Linked DNA regions of Homo sapiens. The protein of the gene in region 1 purifies or fractionates together with the protein of each later gene. This does not show direct contact. Each region holds a gene or a part of one and is shown on either strand. Other genes may lie near its edges. The genes, in order: CIMAP1C and CARNMT1.

Region 1 (8,400 bases):
GGTGAATAAACAGGACCCTGGTTTTGGGGAACTGACAGGCTCCCCAAAGTGACTTGGCAATTGGTTGGATGTGGGAGTTGGGATAAGGGAGGTGTCCAGGACAAGCCTAGGTTTCTGGCTTGGGCACTTAGAAGGGTGGGTGGTGGTGTCATGGATTGAGATGGACAGGGACTGGGGGGTATCTCATAAGGAAATCTTGGGGCATGTTGATTTCAAGGTGCTTGTGAGAAACCCAGGTGACACTGTGCAGGCGGCTGTATATGTGAGCCTAATGCTCCTAAGAAGGTCTAGTCAGGGGAAGTTTTACTTCCGGATTGCTGGGGTATCGATAAGGGAATTAAAGCAACCAGAGGAGATGAGGCTGCCCGGGAGAGAGGAGCGCGGTGCAAAATGGGAGGAAGACCCAGCACTGAGCCCTGAGACACCAACGTCTCTTCCTTAAAATGTTTATTTTGACATAATTTCAGACTTAGATAAAAGTGGCAAGATGATTACAAATGTTTCCCACATACTCCACCTAGATTTCCCAAATGTTAATTGTTTACCACATTTTAAATTCTTTTCTCTCTCTCTCTCTTTTTTTTTTTTTAGATGGAGTCTCACTGTTTCCAGGCTGGAGTACAGTGGTGCATTCTCAGCTCACTGCAACCTCTGCCTCCCAGGTTCAAGCGATTCTCCTGCCTCAGCTTCCCGAGTAGCTGGGACCACAGGCACGTGCCACCAAGCCCAGCTAATTTTTTGTATTTTTTTTTTTTTTTTTTTTTTTTTTTGGAGATGGAGTGTTGCTCTGTCGCCCAGGCTTGAGTACAGTGCAGTGGCCCCATCTTGGCTCACTGCAAGCTCCGCCTCCTGGGTTCACGCCATTCTCTTGCCTCAGCCTCCCGAGTAGCTGGGACTACAGGCGCCCGCCACCACGCCCGGCTAATTTTTTTTTTTTTTTTGTATTTTTAGTAGAGACAGGGTTTCACCTTGTTAGCCAGGATGGTCTCGATCTCCTGACCTTGTGATCCGCCTGCCTTGGCCTCCCAAAGTGCTGGGATTACAGGCGTGAGCCACCGCACCTGGCCAATTTTTTGTATTTTTAGCAGAGATGGGGTTTTACTGTGTTAGCCAGGGTGGTCTCTATCTCCTGACCTCGTAATTTGCCCGCCTCGGCCTCCCAAAGTGCTGGGATTACAAGCATGAGCCACCACACCCGGCCATCTCTCTCTCTATTTTTCTGAACCATTTGAAAGTAAGTTGCAGACATAATGCTCCTTTATTCCTAAATATTTCAGTGAGTTTTTCCTCTTTTTTAATTTTTTTTTTAAAATGAGACAGGGTCTCGCTCTGCTGCCCAGGCTGGACTGCAGTGGTGCCATCAGAGCTCACCACACCATCAAACTTCTGGACTCAAGGGAGCTTCCTGCTTGAGTAGATGGGATTACAGGCACACACCACCGTGCCTGGCTATTTTTTTTTTTCTTTTTTGGTAGTGACAGGGTCCCACTGTGTTGTCCAGGCTGGTCTCGATCTCCTGGGCTCAAGCAGTATTTCCTAGAACAGGACCTTCTCTTTCATAACTGGAGTGCAATGATCAAAACCAGGAAATTAACATTGGTACAATACTTTGAACTAAGCCATAGACTTTTTTCTCCCCAGCTTTGCCAATTTTCCCAAAAATATCCTTTATAACAAAAGAAAACCTCGGCTTTCTTCTGAGTGTCTATTCATCTTGCATGGTTCTTCAGCGTTTCATTGTCTTCCATGATGTTGCCATTTTTGACAAGTACAGGCCAGTTCTTTTAGGTGAATTTTGGTTTGAGTTTGTCTGTTTTCCTCATGATTAAATTCAGGTTCTGTATTGTGGCAGGAATGCCTAGGAAGTGATGCCGTGCCCTTCTCACGCAGCCTATCAAAAGACACATAACTGGCTGGGCGTGGTGGCTTACACCTGCAATCCCAGCGCTTTGGGAGGCCAAGGAGGGCAGATTACTTGAGGTCAGGAGTTCGAGACCAGCCTGGCCAACATGGTGAAACCCTGCCTCTCCTAAAAATACAAAAATTAGCTGGGCATGGTAGCAGGCTCCCCTAATCCCAGTTATTCAGGAGGCTGAGGCAGGAGAATTGCTTGAACCCAGGAGGCAGAGGTCATAGTGAGCTGAGATCACGCCACTGCACTCTAGCCTGGGTGACAGAGCAAAAGACTCTGTCTCCCCCAAAAATCCCCCACAAAAAAACCAAACAAACAAAACCAAGAGGCACACATCTATTGTGCAATCATTGGGATGTTGACTCGTATCACTTGGTTGAGGTGATGCCTGCCAGGCCTCTCTTCTATAAAGTTACTGTTTCCCCTTTGCAATGAATAAGCATACGCCAACATTGAAAGGTCAGGTTGAGGAAGGAAGGAAGCCAGGAAGAAAGCCAGTGCAGGGGCAGCCGAGAGACAGAAGGAAAGAAGGAGGGCGTCCTGGAGCCAGCAGGAGGGGCAGCATGAGTGAGGCAGGGCTGGCATTTATTGCATTAGAGGATGAAGAGTGTCCCTTGGAAGCAGCTGCCACCTGCAGGTGGCGGGCGTCGAGTTAAGCCTCTTTCGGGTGGAGCAGTGGGCCTGGAGCCAACTCAGGCTGAGTCAAGTGTGAGAGGGAGGTGAGAATGGAGATGACTGGAAAACACCTCTGTGGGGAAGGTGGTCTGTGGGCTGGGCAGAGAGGGACAGGCAGTGACGGAGAAGCATGTGGGCTTGGGGGACAGTTTGAATAGATAGAGGGGACTTAGGATATCTAGAGTGTGACAGGAGGGAGCCAGATGAGAGGCGCAAGTCCAAGGAGAGGGGTGCAATCCACAGTGTCCCAGGCGGGACGTGGGAGCCGATGACAAAAGACATGGCGGTTCTGAGGCTGTGATGGGGGGTACTCGTCAGAGCCCAGCCTGATGGGGCAGGTGGATGGGGGGGCCGGAAGGATGGCCAGGCGAACAGAGGAGAGTGAGCCATGCAGGGGATGATCCCTGGGGGTGGGGGAGAGGGGGAGGGCAGGCTGCCCAGAGGTGGGGGTGGGTGGCAGGTGGCGAGGAGGGCAGGTCCAAGGTTCTGGCCATGAGACTGTCCTGACAGCTTTAGCTGCCTGATGCAGATGGACAACGCAGACCTGGGGGACGCAGTGCTGGGATGTTCCAGGAAAGGGGCTGGATGAGGAGGGTGGTGAAAGCTGGAGGGGCCTGAAGGATGACGCAGAAGTGCAGGGAGTGCAGGGTCAGCACTGGGGTCTCAGAGATGGGGGGCAGGGGATGGCCTCCCAGAGAGACTGGCTGTCAGTGCTGTGGGAGGTGGTGAGAAGCCCAGGATTGCAGTGGGGGACCGGCCTGTGAGGGAGTGGAGTGGAGGTGTTTGCACATGAGGAGGTCTGGGAACGGGGAGGCCAGGGCATTGGTGGTGGTCCCTGGGGAGGCCTGAGCTATCAGGGTCATGGCAGGAGTTGGGGTGGGGTGGAGGTGGCCTCGAGCCACGGCTGCTAGGTTTATGAGTAGGGACCCAGGGCAGCCCTGAGGAGCTGAAGGGGGACACACCTGGATGCCAGTGCCCCAGAGGAATGGGGCATTTGATGGGGAGGGCACAGTCTGGGGACCAAGGCAGCCAGAGACCCACGGCACTGTGGACTCTGAGGCATGAGGGATGTGAATGTCGGAGCAGCCAGCTTTGGACAGGGCCGAGGGCCACCTCCAGGGGTGAGCTGGGTCTCCATCAGAGCTGGAGGAAAGGAAGCATTTGGAACAAATTGGAGTGGCTTGTGACCTGCTGGGGTGCGGGGTGGCCTAGTTTCCTGAAGAGCTGTGCACCAGGATGATGGGGCAGAAGCAGTGAGGGAGGAAGGCAGGAGGCTCCCCGGGCCTGAAATACTTGGAGACTGCCCGCTCACCAGGAAGGTGGGGGTCCCAGCCCCAGATCCGGCCCCTCTCAGCACTGGGATACCATCAGGGCTCGCAGCTTCCTACAGGAAAAGCTGACGCGGATGGGGCTGAGGACATAGCATTGGCCCTGGCCTGAGGCCAGTGAGGCTGGGTCACCCCCCAGCCTGGCTCAGCCCTCCCTTACCCAGAAATCAGAGGTTTACTTGCCCCATGGGCATATGGGGGCACACAGGGTCTGCTGCTGGGGGGACTGGGCCCCTGTCCTCTGTTCTGAGGCCTGTGGTCCCTCAGGGGCTTCTGGACACCCTGCATGCCTGTCCTACCTGCTGCTCTGAGCCCTCGCTGTGCCTGCTGACTGGAATGCGTTCAGAGCATGGCTTGGTTTCTATTCAATCAGAGACTATGATCCAAGGAGAGCCCTGGGTTTTGTGTCCTGGTTCCATCTCTGCTATTTTGATGTAGTAGGAGACTTTGGGCAAGTCCTTGTTCCTTTCCGGGCCTCAGTTTTCTTAACTGTGTACTGGGGTGGTGACAGACACCCCTGTCTAAAGCCAGCAGTCATCTGGTTCCTGAGATGGACACCGCTGACCCGGTTCAGGTCAAATCCCTAGTCTGTTACGAACAGTGGAGGTGACAGGCCCCAGGCCCCCAAAAGCCTCCTGGGTTCTTAGGAATGAAGAGGTTCCCAGCATGTTTTCAGGCCTGGGGCTCATCCATCCGTCAGATGGGGCTGGCTGCCTTCCCTCCCCTTCTATGTGTCCTCTCATACCGCCCTCCAACTCCAACTGCTCCCCTGCCAAGGGAGTGCTCTTGGTCACAGGCACAGGAAGCAGCCCCTTGAAGGCTCAGCACCACCCCTCTGTCCTCCTTTATTTGCTTCCCACTCCTTTTTGTATCCATTGAGCTAGACATGGATCTCTAAAGATACCACACCCTGGGATAGGATTCTGGGGAGGAGCTATCAGACAGTCACACCTTAGTGATAATTGACTTGATATTTTGCCAGGGGAAAAATAGACTTGACAGAAGAGAGGGCATGTCCAGAGCCTGGGAGGTAGGTGGGAGAGGCAGGGGGTAGAGAGCCCCCAGGGGGCTGTGTGTGCTGCACAAACCCTTCACCCGTGACCCACCAACCCTTTCCATTCCTTTCCCCAACCTTAGGGCACCCACTGGGAGTGAAGCGCTAGCTGATACGTAACACCATCTCTCCATTTCCCTTCCCTGACCCAGGGTCCTGGGGACCCCCAGGCCACTTGGCCTGGTTGGTGATGGGGGACAGTGGGATAGTCAGGGTTCCATAACTAAGCTCCCAGCATAGAATTTCCACGCCGCAGTTCAGGCGCCATGGCAACCAGGGGAAATAAACACTACGAGTTTCACAGTCCAAGCTCTGCCGTGACGTCATCTCCAGCTCCAGCCTGCTGGGGCCTGTGCTGACTGTGCCCCAGACAGCCTTAGCTGCTCAAGCTGGAGAACTGTCTTCCTTCCCAGCTTCCTCCGTGTCTGGGGTGGGGGATGGGGGGGTCTCAGGCAGGGATACTCTAGCCCCTTGACTGCTGTTTAGACCCTGCTGTAGCTGCTGCTGCTCCCTGCCCAGCCCCAGCCATGAAACTGCCCAAGGGGACCAGGAGCTCTGTGTACTTTGCACAGCACCCAGAAAAGGAGCCATTGCCCTCAAGGCAGGAGGTCAAGCAGACCCCTGTCATCATGGCCAAGATCAAAGGTGAGAGCCATCCCCACCCTGGGCTTGGGCCCCCTCCCCTCTCTCCAGGACTCCTTCCAGCCTGCCTCCTGCAAAGCCCCTTCCAACTTCCTTGAAGCCTTACAGAAGACCTGAGCCTCCAAGCTGACCCTCACAGGCAGTGTTGGCTGCTGGGATTGTCCAAGTGGGTGGGGGAGGAGGGGAGCATGGGACTTGCAGTGAGGCCCGCTTTGGAAAAAGACTAGGAGCCTTTGTCCTAGCTTTAGCTTTCCTCACTTCCCTTCAATTTTACTCTCAAGGGACAGCAGACGCTAATTCTTACTATGTTGGTAATGACTGACTAGTGCTCTAAGTGGGAGTAGTTTAGTGCAGGGATTGAAGGTTTGGGTTCTACTGGATGATGGTCTTAGAATCTTCACACTACTAGTTTGTGATATGTGGGTAGATATTTCTAAGCCTCAATATTCTGTAAAATGGGAAAAACAAGAGCATTTACCTTACAGCATTGTTCAGAGGCTTAACGGAAATAATCCACGTCGGATGCCTAGTGGAGAACCTGGAGCAGAATAAGTTCTCAATTAACTGTAACTATTAGCTTCTTATTATGCATTGTCTGTCCAAGGGAAACTGCATTTTATCTGGAAATACTGCCTTCCCCCAAACGAAGCAGCTGGATGGATGCTGGGCTCGTGGCAGTGCGATAGCAGCAAGAACAAATACCCCCAATGTTCCCATGGTGCGCTGTACTGGGGCTTCCCCTGCCTCTGACCTGGTGGGCCCAGGCTGAGGGCTGTCCTGTCCATCCTTACAGGTCCGGGGCCCGCCAAGTACCTCCGGCCATCCTGCACGGGCTACATAGATCATGACATCTCCATGTTCAAGGCACCAGCTTATACCCTGCATAGCCGGCACTCAGAGAAGCGTGAGCGTTGCCACCCCAGTCATCCGGCTGGGGTTGGAGCTGTTGTTGGAGGTTGAGGGGAGAGACATGGAGCCATTCTCTGTAGCCACTGGGAATCTGAGACACTCAAGGGGCCCCCTGGGTCCAGAGGAAGCCAGCGGGGATTGAGGGTGGGGCAACTCCATGGGCATCCCCTAGCCGCCTCTCCCAAGGGAGCCTATAGGGGATCCTGGCCCTGTCCAGCTGGCACAGCAGAGTCTCCTTTTTCTGGCCTTTGGCTGGGGCCCTTCAGCTCCGGTCGCCATGCTCTGCTAGGGTCACTTGCCATTGTGGCCAGGCAGGAACAGCTAGGAGGCCAGTGGGGAAGTGGTGGCCCCCAGAGCTCCTCAGGTGGCCTAGAACCCACTGGAAGGGCAGAAGCAGAGGCCACAGATGACCTATGCTGCTGGGCAGGGTGTGGTGGCGTGCACCCGGGGGTCTGAGATCTGGGGTGCCTGTCAGGCCTTTCCCTGGGGAGAATACCCACCTCAGCAAGGTAAGCCCCTGGCCTGGCTGGGCCTTTGCTGAATGCCCACAGCAGCCACAGGGCTATTACTCCCCGTTGGCCCCAACCCCTGATTGGGTGGGTGGCTGCCCAAGCTGCTGGGCAGCTGTTATTTTACTGTTCCTCTGAGCAAGTTCTTGAAAATACCAGGTCATGTGTTAAAAGTCCCATTTTACAGATGAGGAAATCAAGGGTCCCCAAACACCCAGGAGCCACAGAATCTGAAGTGGGAGGGAGATCTTGCCTGGAGGCAGGCCAGGTGCTCAGTGGGGCAGCCTTTGGGGCTGACCAGGCCCTCTCCTTGGTTGCCCTGCAGGGATGGTGTGCCACAGCAGCCCTGGGCCTTGCTATCTCTTGGATCCCAAAATAACTCGGTTTGGAATGTCCAGCTGCCCGCAGGTCCCCATGGAGGAGCGCATCTCCAACCTGCGTAAGATGGGGTTATGGACAGATGTTGGGGGTTGGGAGGTTGGGGGGTGGGGTGCACCCTTAGGACCTGGGCAGGGGCAAAGGGTCAAGACTTCCTCCTTGGAAATGTCTGGATGCCGGTATCTCCCTGCAAGACACCGACATTGCAATGCTGACATCACCATGTCTTGAAGTCAATGTTATGACATGCAGCATGTCACCAGGTGACGTTATGATGACATGGAGCTCCTGTTGTGGATGCAATATTGTCATGCGAACGAGCTCACAGACTGTAGTGATCTCAGAATGTTTCTGTGTCGCTGTCAGAGGGACAATGTCTGGATGCTGACACTGTAGCAACTGGGGGTAATCCAAGGGGAATGTTATGATGACATTATGGTTTTTTACATGATGACCACTGTGTTGCCATCCTGATGTCAGGATGGCCTAAGTGACCATCTTATTTATTTATTATTTATTTATTTAGATCGAGTCTCGCTCTGTTGCCCAGGCTGGAGTGCAGTGGCGTGATCTCGGCTCACTGCAACCTCCACCTCCTGGGTTGGAGTGATTCTCCTGCCTCAGCCTTCTGAATAGCTGGGATTACAGGTGCACGCCACCACGCCCAGCTAATTTTTGTATTTTTAGTAGAGATGGGGTTTCACCATGTTGGTCAGGCTGGTCTCGAACTCCTGATCTTGTGATCTGCCTGCCTTAGCCTCCCAAAGTGCTGGGATTGCAGGTGTGAGCCACCGCGTCCGGCCTAAGTGACCATTTGGATGTCCCTGCCCTGCTGCTGAGGTGGTCAGCCTGAGGTCACAGTGGATAACCAGGACCATCAGTTGGCTAGCAGAGAATGAGGTCTGTTCCCTGCTCTGAGAGCCCTCCCTTCCCGCCACTCCCTTTCAGGCCTGAACCCCACCCTCGCATCCTGCCAGTACTACTTTGAGAAGA
Region 2 (7,536 bases), on another chromosome or scaffold:
TAAATAATGTAAATTATAGTTCATGAAAAGATTCTTTTAGCTAGGAGAACTCATTTTTAAAAAGAAAATGGAGGAAATTGGAGAAAATGTAGACTGCCAAATAGTGCAGGTGGTAGTTCAGAGACTAAAGATAGATTTCTCCCTCATCCTGAGACCAAAGACAGGTATGTGTTTCATATTTCTTTCAAGTCAAGATTTCAAGTGCTTACAGATCTAGAAGAATAACACAGTAGAAAAACCACTCAGCATTCATAACCCAGTAGACAAATCCTGTAAATAGATCACAGAAAAAGAAATACAGGACACTCAATCTCATAGGGAAATGCAAATGTAAAAACCACGTTAAGATGCCATTTTTTACTTATTTTATTGCAAAGATTTAAAAGATAACTATTAGTGCAGGTGTGAGGAAACATAAATATGTTGCTGGTGGAAGAATAAATTAGCAAAAAATTATGTAGAACAATGTGGCTTATTTGTCAAAATTCAAATGCATATCTTGGCCAGGCGCCGTGGCTCACGCCTGTAATCCCAACACTTTGGGAGGCTGAAGTAGGTGGATCACCTGAGGTCAGGAGTTCAAGACCAGCCTTGCTAACATGGTGAAACCTGTCTCTACTAAAAATACAAAAATTAGCTGGGTGTGGTGGCACGGGCCTGTAGTCCCAGCAATTTGGGAGGCTGAGGCAGGAGAATTGCTTTAACCCTGGAGGCGGAGGTTGCAGTGAGTCAAGATTGTGCCACTGCACTCTAGCCTGGGCGACAGAGCGAGACTCCGTCTCATAGCAAAACAGAACAAAACAAAACAAAAAACAAATGCATATCTTGATTCTTGAAGTTCAATTTAAGGGAAGCTGTTCTACATATATATTTCTGCATGTGAAAGTTATTTATGCCACTACATTAGTGTAGTGTGGGAAGTAAAATTTTTCAAAATAAAAAGTTATTCATGCTAAGGGTATTCGTTTTAACATTATGATAGTGAAAGATTGGAAACAATATAAATATCCTTAATTAGGAGATTTTGATAAATTATGTTACAGTCATGCAGTGAGTTAAGGAAGCTCTGTGTACTGCTGTGAAGGAGATTCAGGGGTATTGTATTAGATCAGGGGTTGGCAAATGTTTTCTTGAAGTGCCAAACAGTAAATGTGTTAGGCTTTGCCGGCAATGTCGTCTCTGTTGAGACTGCTTAGCGCCTTGTTGCAGGAATGCAGCCATAAACAATTCTTAGATGAGTGAGTATGGCTGCGTTTTAGTAAAACTTCATTTACAATGACAGGTGACTGGCCTGCAAGCCATAGTTGCTGTACCTGTGTTAAGTGAATGACGCGAAGTGAAGAACCTTGGTATGTAAACTATAATAGAACTGTGAATGAATTATTGAAAGCATAGAGAAGAGAGTTCAGGGAACTTTGCCTGGGATATTTAGGAAATATAGATGAAGTGATAATTTATAATAATAAGGTAATTGAGTTTCTGTGGGTAAGAGCTCTAAAGAAAGTCTTCTGGGATCAGTGAGAAGTTGTCTGGCTGAAATAAAGAGTTCTTTGTTGGGAGTTGATGAAGAGGTAAGTTAGGAGATGCTAAACACTCCTGATTTATAGTCAATTTTCTATGATGAATAAAAAAATTTTTGGCTGGGTGTGGTGGCTCATGCCTGTAATCCCAGCACTTTGGGAGGCCAAGGTGGGTAGGTTACTTGAGCCCAGGAGTTCAAGACCAGCCTGGGCAACACGGCGAAACCCCATCTCTAAAAATAAAAAAATTAGCTGAGCATGGTGGCACACACCTGTAGTCCCAGCCACTTGGGAGGCTGAGGCAGGAGGATCGTCTGAGCCTGAGAGGCAGAGGTTGCAGTGACCTGAGATGGCACTATTGCACTCCAGCCTGGGCAACAGAGCAAGACTGTCTCAAATTTAAAAAAAAGAAATTCAATACTAGCTCTGTTAAACCTTGACATTTTGCCATATTTGCTTTAGATCTCTTTTTCATATTAAAAAAAAATTTTTTTTGACTGCCTCTGCAGAGCAGGGCTATGCCACAGGCAGTGTGCTCAGGGCAGCCATATTTTTTAAAAGAAGCAATTTTATTTTTATTTTGAAAATTTCAATGTAATAAAAGATTATTAATGAGATGTTTTTCATTCCTTTTTGTACTGTCTTTAAATTTGGTGTTCATTTTACACTTACAGCACGTCTCAATTTGCAATAGCCACATTTTAAGTGTTCAGTAGCCACATGTAGTTAGTGGCTTTTACTGTACTGTACTATGATTCAAAGAGAACCACTGTAGGTACTTAAAAGTTGTATTTACTTCTACCACTAGGGGTCAGCCAAGTGTCATAATGACCCAACAAGACAGCATTTTGTGTTGGAGTTTTAAAATTTACAACTGCAGTGCAAAGATCGTTCTGTGTGTAACAAAGGAAACCTCTGTCAAGAGTAATGTTTACTGCTGGTGAAAAAGCTGGAGCAGAAAGGTTGATGGAAGTGTGATCTATGGCCTCTTTAGACACATGGACTCTGTCCTTACAGATGTATCCCTTCTCCGTTCCTGTTTGTCTTGAATAAACTGTTGAAACTTTTCCTCCTGTTATTAGGGAGGTCACATTGTAGTAAATGTACTACTGCTTCTCCACATTTGGGCCTTATTAACTAGGTAAACTTGTTGGCTTGCTTGTTTTCACTAAGAATCTCAAGTAGGCACCATTTGATTACTGAGCCACATATTGTATGCCTTTCTATTCTGGCTTTAAAAAAAAAATTCAGCCTGGTTTAAGGTTGTCTCACCATTAAGGTCTGTATTAGATTTGTGTTTCTTTTTCTCCACAGAAATGACCTCATAGAAATGCCCTAGACTTCATACGGATTCATAGCAGAAATTCCCACTTAGAGTGCGTTAGTTTCATGCACATCACAGTTAGAGGAACTTTTCATTATGCTGTTAATATCCCTTGTGTAAAGACCAAATGAAGAAAATCTAGCTAAGAACAAAGATTTAGGGAAAAATTTTCTCCATCTTACCCATTCATTGCATAGTTCCTGATCATTTTTTCAGTTCTAGAGGGTTTGTTTTAATGCATTTCTTACATGTCCACTTCCTCTTTGTCATAATGCCAGTAATTTACATCTATATTAGTGTCTGTTAACTCTTAAGATAGGACTTTGATATATTCTTCATTCTGTGACTTGATGGGTAGCCTTTCAATAGCAGTTTTAATACAAGGTACTGTTAATATATTTTCTGCCATTAGGTTGAGGTGGAGAGTTCTATGGTTCTGTTTAGTTAAGGAGAATTTGATAAAAGCAGTCATTAAGTTAACTTTCTGTAAGTTAGCAAAATAATTGTTGTTAACATTATGTCACAGCTTTCCCTTCAGGGTAGCATAATTTCTAACTCCTGCATGGTAATATTTTACTGGGGTCATCAGCCATTTGGAAATTGATTGCTGGTTATTTTTATATAAAGATTTAAATACTATATGAATTTACTTCCAAATCCTTTTGCTTTCTGTTGCATGAGTTTGATCAGATAATTAAAAAAAAAATTCTAAACTGAGAACAGCCACTTGCTGGGGTAAGGGTAGAAATGCATGTTATGATTGGACAGATGGGAACTGAGAAAAGAAAGGTAATTCTCCAGAGTAGGGGTTTCGGTGGGTCTGGTAGGGAGTGAGAAATGAGAGAGCGTTAGGTCTGAGTAGGATGCCATCATGGCAGTTCCCTTATATAAGGAATAGCACAGAGTCCTAGAGCTATGAGTTTTCAAAAGCCCCATAGTGTTCTTTCTTATTTTGAAGTGGGACATGCAAAGGTTATATGGGCTACTAGTAAAGTGCCCTGTTGCTGCTTGGAGCATGCCAAACTTAAAGGCCACATAGTTAAAGATAAAAAAATCATTAGTAGGAGTAGATTTGGAAATTGGATTTGATTTGTGAACCAAATTTAGGAAATACAGTAGTGAAGTTTCTTTTTACTTCCTGACATGATATTAGCTGATTGTATACATTTTCCTTTGGCTTCTTATAAGACTACAATTTTAGTTTCCTCGGGATTATATTGATTTGCCAAAATTCCTGAGAAAAAGCCTTGTTTTGGTAAAACTTTTAGTGGTTTGAAAGTGGAATGATGGATCTTACGTGAAGGAAATATGTAATGGCAGTGTGGTGCTAGTAGGTAGAGATCAGTTTGGTTGTGAACCTCTGGTTTGGTGTAATATATTTGTTATCATGTATGTTTAATTAGAGGGCCGTTTCCCATTTTCCCCATGAAAATATCCCCTCCCCCAAATTCTTCTGTCAACTAAAATATATAGGGATTTAGAGATATACCTGACACATTAAACTCTACATCTGTTTAATCTAACATAAACAATTGAGTTACATATAAAATTTAGAAATAAAGTTATGTTGTATTTATTGTCCCATATGATGAAGTACTTTTGTTCAAACTCTTCATATTTAATTGGGATCCCTTTGGAATAATTTGTCTTTCTAAGATAGTTGTTCAGGGTGACAGCTATTAGGAATATGAGTGACTTTATAAGTCTTGAGATGTAAGGGGACTCCTTTTTTCTGAAAAATAATTTTTGAGGGGTAAAACCCTCATCTGATATCGGAACATACATAATAATTCCTTATACCTTTTATTTTTGATATTTAGAAGTATTTCTTGATTGTGAGAAGTCAGAGTCTTAGCTTATTCTTATTGAGTAAATGAGTAAGTTTTTAGTTGTTAATGTGGATTTTGTCTTTTCCTTTTTTTCTTTGAGGGGTTGGACATAATTGCCTTATTTCATTTCAGGGATCCTTCTAAAGTAAATATTCTGGTACCTGGTGCTGGACTAGGAAGACTGGCCTGGGAAATAGCTATGCTAGGTTATGCTTGTCAAGGAAATGAATGGAGTTTTTTTATGCTCTTTTCTTCCAACTTTGTACTCAACAGGTATTTAATTTATTTTTTGCTGGAAATAGTAATTTCTCAGAATCAGATTGACTTACCTATTTTCTTGAACAATTTTGAATTTGAAGATAAGTACATAGCATTTGATTATTATATATATCACAAATGTGTCTTATGTTAAAATCAAAGTACTTACACAAATTATCACTTGAACCAATTGCCTAGTTATTAGAGTGTTGAAACAAGATGGGTAAGTGACTTTATAGAAAGTGACTGGGCATTCCATGAAATGATTTCTGTACAAAATCTTCAGGACTAAGTATGAACCAGGAAGGAGTATTTCTAAATTTATTCCTTAAGCTTCTTTACTTCCTTGTTTCTTTAGTTAAATAAGAGTTTAGTTTAGCAATTATAACTTTTTCTCCTTAATCAAGTTCTTATAAAATGGCCAAGTATGCTCTCATGACTGAGTTGGAAAGATCTCTCAGAACTTCTGTGGCCTCTTTTGGAAGGCAGTGGAAAACAATTGTTATTTTTAAAGCCAGAAGATGTACATTGAGTAGCTGCCTTGTTTAAATAATATGTTGTCTCGGATGGCAGTATGAGTTTTAGGGGATTGGTGAAAAAGGGAAAAAAGAAGAGGGTTATACAAAAAATAGCAAACTGTTTTAGTTGAAACCAGTACCATTTTAAAAAACCTCGTTGGACTGTTATTACTTGGTTTTGAAGTTTAGAAATACATTTTTAAAAATCTGAATGAACAGCACATTTATATCTCTGAATTTACTTTTTTTTTCTGTCTTTAATCCATTGATTGGTTGCTCATCTACATGTATATGTACATTTTCAGATAATTAGGGAAGCTGTAATAGTGACTCTTTAAATATTAATTATATATGCAAATCTTCAATTAAACAGTATATTTTTAGTATTTAAAGTGGATTTTCTTGGTAAAATATTTAGTTAACACCTGATTTTATACTCATATTTTGCAGATGTTCTGAAATTAATAAATATAAACTTTATCCTTGGATCCATCAGTTTAGCAATAACCGGAGATCAGCTGATCAGATTCGACCCATCTTTTTCCCTGATGTTGACCCCCACAGTCTTCCTCCTGGTTCTAACTTTTCTATGACAGCAGGAGATTTTCAAGAGATTTATTCAGAATGCAGTAAGTCCAAATCAAGCGTTTAAAAAGTCTTGTCCTTTATTCTAAATTTAATGAGCTAGTTTTATCCTAAGCCAAGGTTTAGATCATTCATTTTGATGGTAGAACATAAGGCATATGTCAGTGTCAATTTAGAATGTTTTCAAGGTCGTGTACAAGGCAGTGATAGGAAATAAGAAGTGTAAGATATCTACAGTCAAGAAATTTAGAATCTGTTGGGCCCATTAATACTAAGAGATACCATGTAAACAAAGGTTAAATGAGTAATGAATACCAAAAAAATGAAAGGTTATTAGTGTAAGAAGGAAGCTGTTCATAGTGAGGCTATGACTTGAAGGTTGAGAGAATAGCATTTGAGGCAGACAGAAGTACAAAGATATGAACAAGGTGATTGGGGATGGCAGCACAGCTGTACTGGCAGGGAAAGAAAAGATTTAATGGGAGATTTAATGAGATTTAATAGGAGCTATTGCTAGAAAAGTGAATTTGTTCCAGATCATGGAGGACTTGTATAGTCAGGCTGCACAGTTGACTTCAGCCTGGCAAACTGTTGAAGAAATCTGAGCTAGGCAGGAGAGAAAGGGAGATGGTAATAGGGAAAGTGGAGAGGGAGATTGGCACTAAAAGGAAAGCAAAATAGAATACCGAGGGTTCAGCAAGATCATTGAGTCAATAGGTATTTGTTGAGCACCTACTAAGTACTAGGTATTTTTCTAGGTGTCAAAAGAGAACAGTGAACAAAACAAAATCCCTGTCCACAGAGAACTTCCAATAGAGAAAGTGAGGCAATAACAAATACAATATTGTAAGGAAGAAAAAATAAGGCAGGGAAGACGGGTTACAGAGTGACTGGGGAGAGGCTGCTGCTTTATATAGAGTTGTCAGGGAAAGCCTTTCTAAGAGTAGAAACTAAAAAAAAAAAATGTCTAGTAGAGAACCTTGAAAGAGTACACAGACAAACCACTGAGATATTTGAAGGCAAAATTTTGCAGATGGGGAATGGCAAGGGAAGAGGATCAGGGAGTAGAGTGAGTGCTTGCTCTGCTCAAGGAGGAGCTAGGCTGTAGTAAGCAATGGGTACAGTGGTGAGAGGTCAGCCTCGAGAGGGTTTGATGAGGCAAACTTGTTGGCAGGCCATAGCAAGGACTTGGAATTGTACTCAGAGAAACAGGAAGCCATTGGAGGGCTTAAAGCAGGGATAGCAACAACATAGATTGTTTTTATTTATTTATTTATTTTACAACATAGAAAGTTTTTGTTTATTTTTCTCTGAACTCTGAGACTGGGACAACCTGTACTCTGAAGGAAGAAAGGGAGAGATGGAAGATGTTAGGTGTTGTGGATAAGGAATGAAATAATGGAAAACATCACTTAGGCAAGTAAAAGTCCCCTTTTTCTGGAGCAAGGTTTGAGAGAACAGATGATGAAGGTAGTCCTCCATGGGATCAAGTGCCTTTATTG

What was found.
Region 2: the proteins of CIMAP1C (region 1) and CARNMT1 purify together in Homo sapiens (affinity purification with mass spectrometry; 3 studies listed by BioGRID and IntAct, with this or other methods). This does not show direct contact.

Annotation. Positions count from the first base shown.
Region 1 is NC_000015.10:75,718,704-75,727,103, forward strand, and holds the start of CIMAP1C (protein CIMAP1C), read left to right. Parts: upstream 1-5,337; 5' UTR 5,338-5,496; coding exon 5,497-5,614; intron 5,615-6,404; coding exon 6,405-6,515; coding exon of another isoform or gene 6,516-6,566; intron 6,567-7,354; coding exon 7,355-7,468; intron 7,469-8,355; coding exon 8,356-8,400.
Region 2 is NC_000009.12:74,997,140-75,004,675, reverse strand, and holds part of CARNMT1 (carnosine N-methyltransferase), read left to right. Parts: exon of another isoform or gene 1-4,799; intron 4,800-4,805; coding exon 4,806-4,946; intron 4,947-5,899; coding exon 5,900-6,078; intron 6,079-7,293; exon of another isoform or gene 7,294-7,356; coding exon of another isoform or gene 7,357-7,421; exon of another isoform or gene 7,422-7,536.